Regions from separate parts of the Homo sapiens genome. Here region 1 is linked to region 2. The links come from fine-mapping of genetic effects on gene expression. A gene starts in region 2. The other region holds a variant in brackets. All regions are shown on one strand. Distances are between the middles of the regions. Region 1 overlaps AKAP3 (A-kinase anchoring protein 3). Region 2 holds the start of AKAP3 (A-kinase anchoring protein 3).

The links. PIP is the estimated chance that this variant, and not a neighbour inherited with it, causes the effect. A credible set is the group of variants that fine-mapping cannot tell apart.
Region 1: its variant is the best candidate, but not a certain one, in a credible set for the expression of AKAP3 in thyroid (GTEx, PIP 0.53).

The regions. Positions count from the first base shown.
Region 1 is chr12:4,620,875-4,625,874 of GRCh38, reverse strand. All of the region lies in intron 5 of AKAP3 (A-kinase anchoring protein 3), which reads left to right. Among named protein-coding and RNA genes, the nearest start is that of AKAP3, 26 kb to the left of the region's middle. The variant A/G (reference allele first, on the strand shown) is at 2,387.
Region 2 is chr12:4,647,109-4,652,108 of GRCh38, reverse strand. AKAP3 (A-kinase anchoring protein 3) reads left to right here and starts at 3,058. Exons shown (of 6, transcript NM_001278309.2): 1 at 3,058-3,364. NDUFA9 (NADH:ubiquinone oxidoreductase subunit A9) reads right to left here and starts at 2,995. Exons shown (of 11, transcript NM_005002.5): 1 at 2,934-2,995. The coding sequence starts at 2,982. RefSeq lists enhancers at 2,570-3,225, 3,094-3,303, 3,584-3,633.

The sequences.
Region 1 (5,000 bases), 26 kb after region 2:
GGTGCCCAGTAAGCATCAGAACTGCGCGCCAAAGGGAGGGTTTGAGTCTGGAGAACACGCACACTTACCCCAGATGCTTCACACTGAAGTGCGGGAATTAAAAAGACCATCCCTACAACCTTCTCTTCTCTCTCCTCTCTGCCTTCTCGCTCGCTTGCTCTCTCTCTCTCTCTCTCTCTCTCATTTTCTCTTCCTCAGTGCTTTTGATTGTCTCCTCTTGATTGAGAAAAGTGGACCAACTGCTGTTAATCATTAAGTAGCAAAGGGTGGCACAAGAGGCTAGAATTATTTAGAAAATTTCATCATCATAGGAATCAGAAGATAAGGAAAAACAGGCTTTCTCTGCTTAATTAAGTGGTATTTACATGGTATTAGCAACGCTTGCAACTGGGTCGCTATATTTATCTGATGACTGGGAAAACACACGATTACAGAGCATCCAGATTAGGCTATATCAAGCCTAAACAAGAAACTGTATGGTCTTTGACTTTGGTCTTAAAAAGACTACACGTGCTACTTAAAGTGTAGTCTGTGGACCTACAACATTGGCATCACCTGGGAGCTTTTTAGAAGTGCAGAATCTCACACTTCCCTCCAGACCTACTGAATCAGAATCTTCATCTTAGCAAAATACCCAGGTGAGTTGTGTGCACATTCAAGTTAGGCTAGAAGACAGTGTGAACTTCCAATATTAGATCTATTCCTAAGGGTCGTTGGCAAGCTCTGTCTCCACGCAGGGTTTCCAATCCGTGAAACAGACAACTATTTTACAGTATATAGCAATTAGTAGAGGTGGGGAGTGGGAGGCTATATGCTGAAGAAAATTTAAACTGATGAAAAAAATCTAAAAGTAAGCATAGCTTTCAGGTGTGTAATGTGTGAGAAAGCCTTTTGTAGCCATCTTTGAAATCAAACCCCTCATATATAACATACATAATACATTCTGGCTTTAGACTTTTTTTGTATTGGAATGTGTTGTTTTAGATTATTTTAAATTGAAACATGTATCTAAAATAGGACAATAGACTTGCAGTCCCCCACTTTTATATACACACACACACACACCTTTGTCTACTCTAAAGATAAAGCCAGTCATCTATTTTATTGACTCCCTCTAAGAGTAGAAGGAATGAGAAGCAGCATGTTCAAACTTCAACTAATAAATAGACGCACTGAATATTAGTATATTTTTAAGAACAGGGATGACATAGACACCAAAGAAACTACCTAAAAATGACTTTTTGAAAAGAGATTAATGTATGCAAATATTCTCATACTGATTCAGGTGATTGAACCTGCTGTCACTGGGATGTCTGTGAGCCCGATGTCTTTAAATACATTTGTATTTATTTTTGAATAAATAATATGTGTGCATAGTTCAAAATTCAAAAGTACAAAAGGATGCATGGTGAAAATTAAGGGTTGTTTTCTCATTTGTGTGCTCCATCCCATTGCCTTCCCTGGAGAAAAAAATTGTTTGGATCAATTTCTTATTTATCCTTCCAGCAATACACACACACACACACACACACACACACACACACACACACACACACACGTAAAGTCACAAATTATTATTTTTTATATATATATCCTCTTCTGCAACATATAGAGTTGCCACATTCTTTTTAATGGCTTTATATATTTTATAATATATGAAGCCATTTCATATATCATATATGTTTTATATATGTTTTATATATTTAACCCCTCCCTTATGTATGGATATTTCAGTTGCCACTATTCTGCACTGTAAGCAATGCTACACTGAATATCCTTGAATATACATAATTTTGCACAGATTCAAATGTATTCACATGTGCTATACACCTAGGAAAGGAACTTCAAGGTCACTGAGAATATTATTTGTGTAATTTGATACATGTTTCCAAATTGCCTTCCATAGAGCTTGTACCAATTAACACACCTATTAAAACAGTGTAAGAGGACTATTTCCTCACACTTTAACCAACAGTGCATGCTAAAATTTTTAATTTGCTAAGTTGCTTTACTTTTTGTCTTATTAGGAATAAGGGTGAGTATCTTTGCATATAAGACCATTTGAATTTCCTCTTCTGTGGATTAATTTGTCATAACTTCTGCCCATTTTTCTTTTTTTAACTTATTTTAGGTTCAGGGGTATATGTGCTTGTTTGTTATATAGGTAAACTCATGTCACACGGGTTTGTTGTACAGCTTATTTTGTCACCCAGGTACTAAGCCTAGTACTGACCCAATAGTTATTTTTTTCTGAGTGTCTTCTTCCTCCCACCCTTCACCCTCAAGTGTCTGTTGTTCCCTCTTTGTGTCCATGTGTTCTCATCATTTAACTCCCACTTCTGATAACACGCTGCATTTCATTTTCTGTTCCTGAGTTAATTTGCCA[A/G]TGGCAATGGCCTCCAACTGCATCCATGTTCCTGCAAAGGAAATGGCTGTGTTCTTTTTTATGACTGCATAATATTCCATGGTGTATATGTACCACATTTTCTTTATCCCATCTGCCATTGATGGGCACTTAGGTTATCTCCATGTCTTTGTTATTGTGAATAGTGTTGCAGTGAACATCCACGTGCATGTGTCTTTATGGTAAAACAATTTATATTCCTTTGGATATACACCCAGTAATGGGATTGCTGGGTTGAACAGTAGTTCTGTTTTTAGCTCTTTGAGGAATTGCCACACTGCTTTTGACAATGGTTGAGCTAATTTACACTCCCACCAACAGTGTATAAGTGTTGCCTTTTCTCCACATCCTTGCCATTACTTTTAATAATAGCCATTCTAACTGGTGTGAGATGGTATCTCATTATGGTTTGGATTTGCGTTTATCTAGTGACCAGTGATATTAAGCTTGTTTTTATATGCTTGTTGGCCACACGTATGTCTTCTTTTGCAAAGAGTCTGTTTGTGTCCTTTGCCCACTTTTTAATGGGGTTGTTTTTTTCTTGCAAATTTGTTTCAGTTCCTTATAGCTGAACATTAGACCTTTGTCAGATGCATAGTTTGCAAATATTTCCTTCCATTATGTAGGTTGTCTGTTTACTCTATTAATAGTTTCTATTGATGTGCAGAAGCTCTTAAATTTAATTAGATCCCATTTGTCAAGCTTTGCTCTTGTTGCAGTTGCTTTTGGTGTATTCATCATGAAATCTTTGCCGGTTCCTATGTCCAGAATGGTATTGTCTAGGTGTTCTTCTAGGGTTTTTACAGTTTTTAATCTTACATTTAACTCTTTAATCCATGTTGAGTTGATTTTTGTATATGGTGTAAGGAAGGGGTCCAGTTTCAATCTTCTGTATATGGCTAGCCAGTTATCCCAGCACCTATTGAATTAGGGAATCCTTCCCCATTGCTTGTTTTTGTCAGCTTTGTCAAAGATCAGATGGTTGTAGCTGTGTGGCCTTATTTTTGGGCTCTCTATTCTGTTCCATTGGTCTGTATGTCTGTTTTTGTACCAGTACCATGCTGTTTTGGTTACTGTGGTCCTGGAGTATAGTTTGAAGTTGAGTAATGTGATGCCTCTAGCTTTGTTCTTTTCACCTAGGAGTGCCTTGGCTGTTGGCAGGCTCTTTTTTGGTTCCATATGAATTTTAAAATAGTTTTTTCTAGTTCTATGAAGAATTTCATTGGTAGTTTAATAGGAATAGCATTGAACATTTAAGTTGCTTTGGGCAATATGACCATTTTAACAATATTGACTCTTTCTATCCATGAGAATGGAATATTTTTCCATTTGTTTGTGTCATTTCCGATTTCTTCGAGCAGTGTTTTGTAATTCTCATTGTAGAGATTTTCACCTCCCTAGTTAGCTGTATTCCTAGGTATTCTTTTTATGTTCTGCCCATTTTCTTATTGCATTGTAGGCCTTTTTCTTATTGATCTATAAGAGTTTTATATATTACAAGGAATCAACCTTTATGATATTAAATACAAATGTTTCCTTTGCCATTGGTCCTTTGATTGGTGTTTTGTTGTTGTTGTTGTTGTAGTTTGTTTCTGCCATACAAATGTCATCAAATATGAGACATTTTTCTTTTATTTTTGCTGGGTTTTATGTTATATTTTGGAAAACATTCTCCACTTTACGATATTAGCAAAACTTTCCCATGTTTTTTTCTAGTCCACTCATGCATTGCTTAGTCATGGGGATATGCTCTGAGAAGTGTGTCATTAAGCGATTTCCTCATTGTGTGAACATAATAGACGGTACTTACACAAACCTAGCTGGTATAGCCTACTACATATCTAGCTTATATTGTATAGCCTATTGCTCCTAGGCTACACACTTATATACAGCATGTTACTGTACTGAATACTGTAAGCAATTATAACACCACAGTATGTGTGGATCTAAACATATCTAAATATAGAAAAGGTACAGTAAAAATATGGTTTGAAAGATAAAAAATGGTACATCTGTATAGGTCACTTACCATGAATGGAGCTCACAGGACTAGAAGTTGCTCTGGATGAGTGAGTGACTGAGTGGTGAGTGAATGCGAAGGCCTAGGACATTACTGTTCACTACTGTAGACTTCATAAAAACTGTATATTTAGGCTACAATAAATATTTTAAAATATTTTTCTTTCTTCAATAATAAATTAGCAGCTTACTGTAACATTTTTATGTTACAAAGTTTTGATTTTTTTTAACTTTTTGGCTCTTTTGTAATAACAGCTTAAAACACGTTGTACAGTTATACAAAAATATTTTCTTTATATTCTTTTTTATAAGCTTTTTTCTATTTAATTTTTTTATTTTTTATTAAAAATGAAGATACAAACACACATATTGACCTAGGCCCACACAGGGTCAGGATCATCAATACCATTGCCTTCCACCTCTGCATGTTCTCCCATTAGAAGGTCTTCAGGGTAAGTAACACTCATGGAGCTATTATGTCCTATGATGACAATGCCTTTGTCCTGAAGGACCTGCCTGAGGCTGTTTTACAATTAATTTTTTTAATAAGTAGAAGGAGTAGACTAAAATAATACCA
Region 2 (5,000 bases):
GGTGGGAAAATGACTGTTCTCATCTGATTCCTTTGATTTCTCTGTAAAGCTGAGAATGAGACAAAAGCACATGTTAGAGGTTTTAGGAAACTCGCTATGTTAAGTAATGATTATGGAGACAAGGAAACCAAATTTCCTAGAAAAATGTAGCACTGAAAATCTACTTGAGATTTGTATTCATGAATTTAAAATAAGGCCAGTTAGTCTGAAGTTTTCCCTAGCCCCGTTCTCCATTGCTCAGTGGCAGGCAGCAAATTACGTGGAAAGTTTTGTTTAATCAGGGTCAATGTTTTTTACGACAATGGGAGTTGGGCTGGGGAGTTGAGGATGCATAAAAGGGAATGATAAGAGTGAAGAGTAAGGAAATGAGGACATAGGATAAGACAGGCAAAAGATGGCAGAGTCAATGAACTGGGAAGAATTACTTGAGTTGAGGAATTAATACCTCAAAGGACTGTTAAGAGGATTAAACATACATAAACCACGTAGCACATTACCTAGAGCACATTAAGCATTCTATGAATAATAGTTGCTTTTATTACTTTGAAATTTCTCAGAAGGTAATGTCACACTAACCTCACATGGCTATTGTTTTTTTTTAATAATTATGGGCCAAGAATTATTCTAGAAACTGTGACTATCACAGTAAAATACAAAACCCTGGCTTCATGAAGCTCACAGTTTAAAGGGTTAATGAGAATAACATATGGGCAAGCATCTGTCACAGTGCCTTGCAAATACTAGGTGCTCAATAAATATAAATTATTACTCTCTTTGGTTCCAGCCTCTCCACTTTCTTCCATTTATTATGAGTACTATTAGAAGAATGATATTCTTTATTAATTATATATTCATTATATTTCTCTGCTTAAAAACCTACATTAGTTTCCTACTGCAATACCCAAACCAATAGTCCAGACATATTTGCTTGCACACTGCATTAATTTTTTTAAGTATTTATTTAAAAAATTATATGCACGTTCTATGTAGTACCAATATGATATACACATTATAAATCATACATTACTTAGAATAGTGTGTGGCATACAGTTTAAACTACATAAGTGTTAGCTATTATTACTATAGAAAGCAATTTTTAGGAGTTCTAATTTATATTTCCACAACTTATTAGGTCCTCTTGCACAACTCCCTTTGGAGACTACCGATCTAAACTCTGCTTGGCTTTCAAAGGTCTCCATTGTCTGATCCCATCTAACACATTCAACCTCCTTTTCCACTATCCCAGATATTCAGGTAGTCATTTCACTGCCTCTTGAATACCTCATGACTCCATTCTCACCCACTTGTCTTTGCCAGAGGACTTTCCAGATCATAACAGCCCTAAAGAGACCAGTGGGAGCACTACAATTCTCCACTGGTCTTCCAATCATCCCTCAGTACCTCAAATGATACTAATCTTTCCCTTTTATGATTTCCTGTGATACTTAATAGTCTTGCCACACTTAACTATATATAGTTGTCTTACACAGTTCTGTCCTATAGTGTGTGGATTATGTTACATACTAGACTTGCCTCTACAGAATTTACTCAAAAACTTACTTTACCAGACAATAACGCAGAGTGGTTAAGAACACAAGCTATGGTGTCAGTCAGAGGAAAGTAAGTTAAAAGAGGAAAATTAATAAAAATACCTAGAACTGGAGATTGCAGATAGCAGGTACTCAATAAATAGTGATTACCATTCACAATCTACATTACGTCATACAATTGTAATAGTTTAACAAGAACCAGCAAATGTCTTTGCAAAGACATTGTGACTACAAAACCATCCACTATAAGTGATGTGCACCACCACCTTCCCAGTGGTATGCAGGAGTTCTACCCAAGATGGAAAACAAAAAAAAAAGGATCCTCTAAACACTCCTAATTCTTGCCTCAGGCTGAACATCAAGCCTATCTGTGGTGCTTTTAAAAATTTAAGGTGCAAGGAGCTAATCTCACAAATTCTGACTCAATAGCTCTACACTCAGTCCTCATTTCTAATTTTTATAAAGCTTTACGAGTGATTCTGACATGAGCCAATTTTGAAAGCAAATGATATTCTGTAACGACTAAAATACACTAAGAAAAATACAACTTTGGGGGTTTGATTGGAATATGTTTGTGGAAGAGTAGAGGGTGAAAGGACAATGATGAAGTGTAACCGTATTTCTAATTTCCTTGCTTTTTAGTGAGTGGAAGGACAAATGTATGTTTTCAGTTTGAGGAGTGGGAGCAGATCCAATCAGAACAGAAGAGAAACTAAATAATGCTAACAAATTCTAACATAGCCTTCATTCTTCACTTTCCTTTCCACCAAGCTCCTGATTCTTCTCTCCTCAAACATCACTCTCTCCCCCAGACCCCAACGCACTTTGCCGAACACATTCTACATCCGTAGAGACGCTTTTGGGTAAAAGGATGCTTTTACAAATATTAGCTCATTTAATCTTATCAGAGACTCCCTGGTATTGTAATATTATCATTTCCATTGTGCTCATATGAATTGAGACCCATTAAGGGTTTGCACAAGGTCATAAAATCAATCTAAGAAAACCTCTCGCCACTAGCCTTTTTTCCCTCCCTTACACATTTCTCCCCCCGCCCCATACAAATATTTCTCATAACCCTAAACCCTTACAACCATATCAGAATTCTGATTCTCTCGATCCCTAACGTGTCCCCCGCATTCTCCTCTTCGCTTACAGCTGCTTAAGATCTTTTGTCCCCTCCCAAGGTGGTGCACAATTGAATATGTGAGCCGGGGAAGCGGAAAGCGAAAGGAGAAACCAGACTGAGGCAGCTCCAAACCTAGAGAAACCAGAGTGTGCCTAGGAAGTTGGCGTGACCGCTGCAGCACGGTGCCACTTCCAAAACCTTAAATCCCCGTCTCGGAATCCCGACCAGGGGCCGCCGTTCCCGGTAACACTTACGTGACATTGACAGGACCCGGACAACCCGGGATTGTGCGGCAGCCGCCATCTTTTCCCACAATCCCCCACGACAGCACTCCCGGCTGACTACGGCTGCTAAGCTGGGTCAAAACTTACCTTTCTCGCCTGTCTGCGCAAGCGCTAACCAAGAAACGACGGTTTCGGGTAGATTGTTGGTTAAGAAGAAAGCTGGGAAAGTGAAGGAGAGGGGGAAGAAAGGAAGTGAAAAGACTTTGGCTGTTGGAATCTCAGATCTGGAATAGGCTGTATAGGCTATTTATAATCTCTAATTGCCGAGGAACCTGAAGTTCAGAGTTAACCAGTGACTGACTCAGGACATGCAAAATGGCAAGACCCGAGGTAGAAGAGCTCACCTTTCCTGACTCTCAGTTTCCTGTTCCCTGAAAATGTAAGCTAAGCTGGCAGCCCTGGTGAGTCCGGAGGAAGAAGGAGGCGTAGCCCTCCGCGCTCAGGAGATCCAGGGCCCAGGAGAGAGAAAAGGGGGGACAAGAACGAGGGGAAAAGTGGAGAAGAGAAACCAAAATAGGGTGTGTCCCAAGTAAATAAATGTGCGTCGAGCCCGCCAAGCACATTCTCTCATAGGGACCCTTGCGCCTGCTGTTCGCGTTTCCTGGAATGCACACTCAGGTGTCTGCACCAGCTCAAGTCTCTGCTCAAAAGTGACCTCTTCGGATAAAACTTCTCTGACCATCCTATCCAAGGTGGTAATTATTCCACCAATTTTTGGTTTAAGTTTATATACCAAAGCACTTATCACCAACTAGCATATGAATCTAGGAGTTCTTAACCAGAAGTGTGATTCATGAGTGGGCTTCGGGAAATCTGTGAACTTCCTGAAATATTATGCAAATTTAGTGGCCATGTGTGCCATCTGAACATCTGTCTAAGGAGAAACTGCAGATGGCTCTCTCTAGCGCAATGGCTTGTAATTTTTTCTTTAACTGTGGTCACCTTTGAGAATCTGCATTGTTCTACAAAGAGCCATCTAGAAACTGAGGAAATTCCAGGTTAGACTAAGCGCTTGGATTTTAAAATACTTTATTCTGGTCAACCTCTCCAGATTGCTGGGTAGGAGATGGCAACCAGTGATCCTGTGAAACATACCTTAGGCTTATCAGAAAACCACCTAGTTTGGGGAGGGCGGGTTCTTTCTAGACTTGGTAATCCTTCCAGTGCTTTGTTTTTTCAGGAAAAGTATGTGTTTCTGGGATAGACAAAAAGGCCTGTGATGAGTAGGGATGTAGAAGTTGCTTATTACTAGGCTTGAAATCTTGGCTGTTTCCACTCTATCTTGCCCCTACTGTTTACTGAAGTGTCGCCTAACAAATTGAATTGGAAGAGAGAAAAAAACCTTGAATTTCATCGGAGAAGCTTAGTAGTAACGCTACACTGTCATATTTCTTGGCCTTATCCTATGTTCACTTAACACAATTTGCTAATACTTGATTTTGGGACCAATATGGATACTAACATACTTTCCTTGTTCGGATCAACAGATCCTGACTGTCATCAGCAACCTGCTTACTCCTGTATAACACTGCCAATTATATAATTTAAAATCTCTAAGTTAAACACTGCCTCATGTTCTCAGTTCTAGTTTCAAGGTTGCATGGTGTAATTAAAAGAACACTGACTTTTTTTTTTTTCAGAGATGGGGTCTTACTGTATTGCCCAGGCTTGTCTCAAATTCCTGGGCTCAAGACCTCCTCTCACCTTGGCCTCCAAAAGTGCTGGGATTACAGGCATGAGTCACTGTGCCCAACTGAAAGAACACCGATTTTTAACACCTAGAATACTAGATCCCATCCCCAGTTTTGTCATTCGTTAGCTGTGACCTGGACAAGTTTCTACACTTGTCTAACAGGGTAAATAAAACCTACCCTGGTACCTCAAAAGGTTATTATGAGAATCGGGTGGCGTAATGGATGCAAAGATGCTTTGTCACCCGTAAAGTGCTATATGTAGGTCCATGCAGTACTATTCAAATACCACTGAAGTATCAAAATCATAGAATGTTAGAGCTGGAAGAGATTTTAGGAGCTCAGC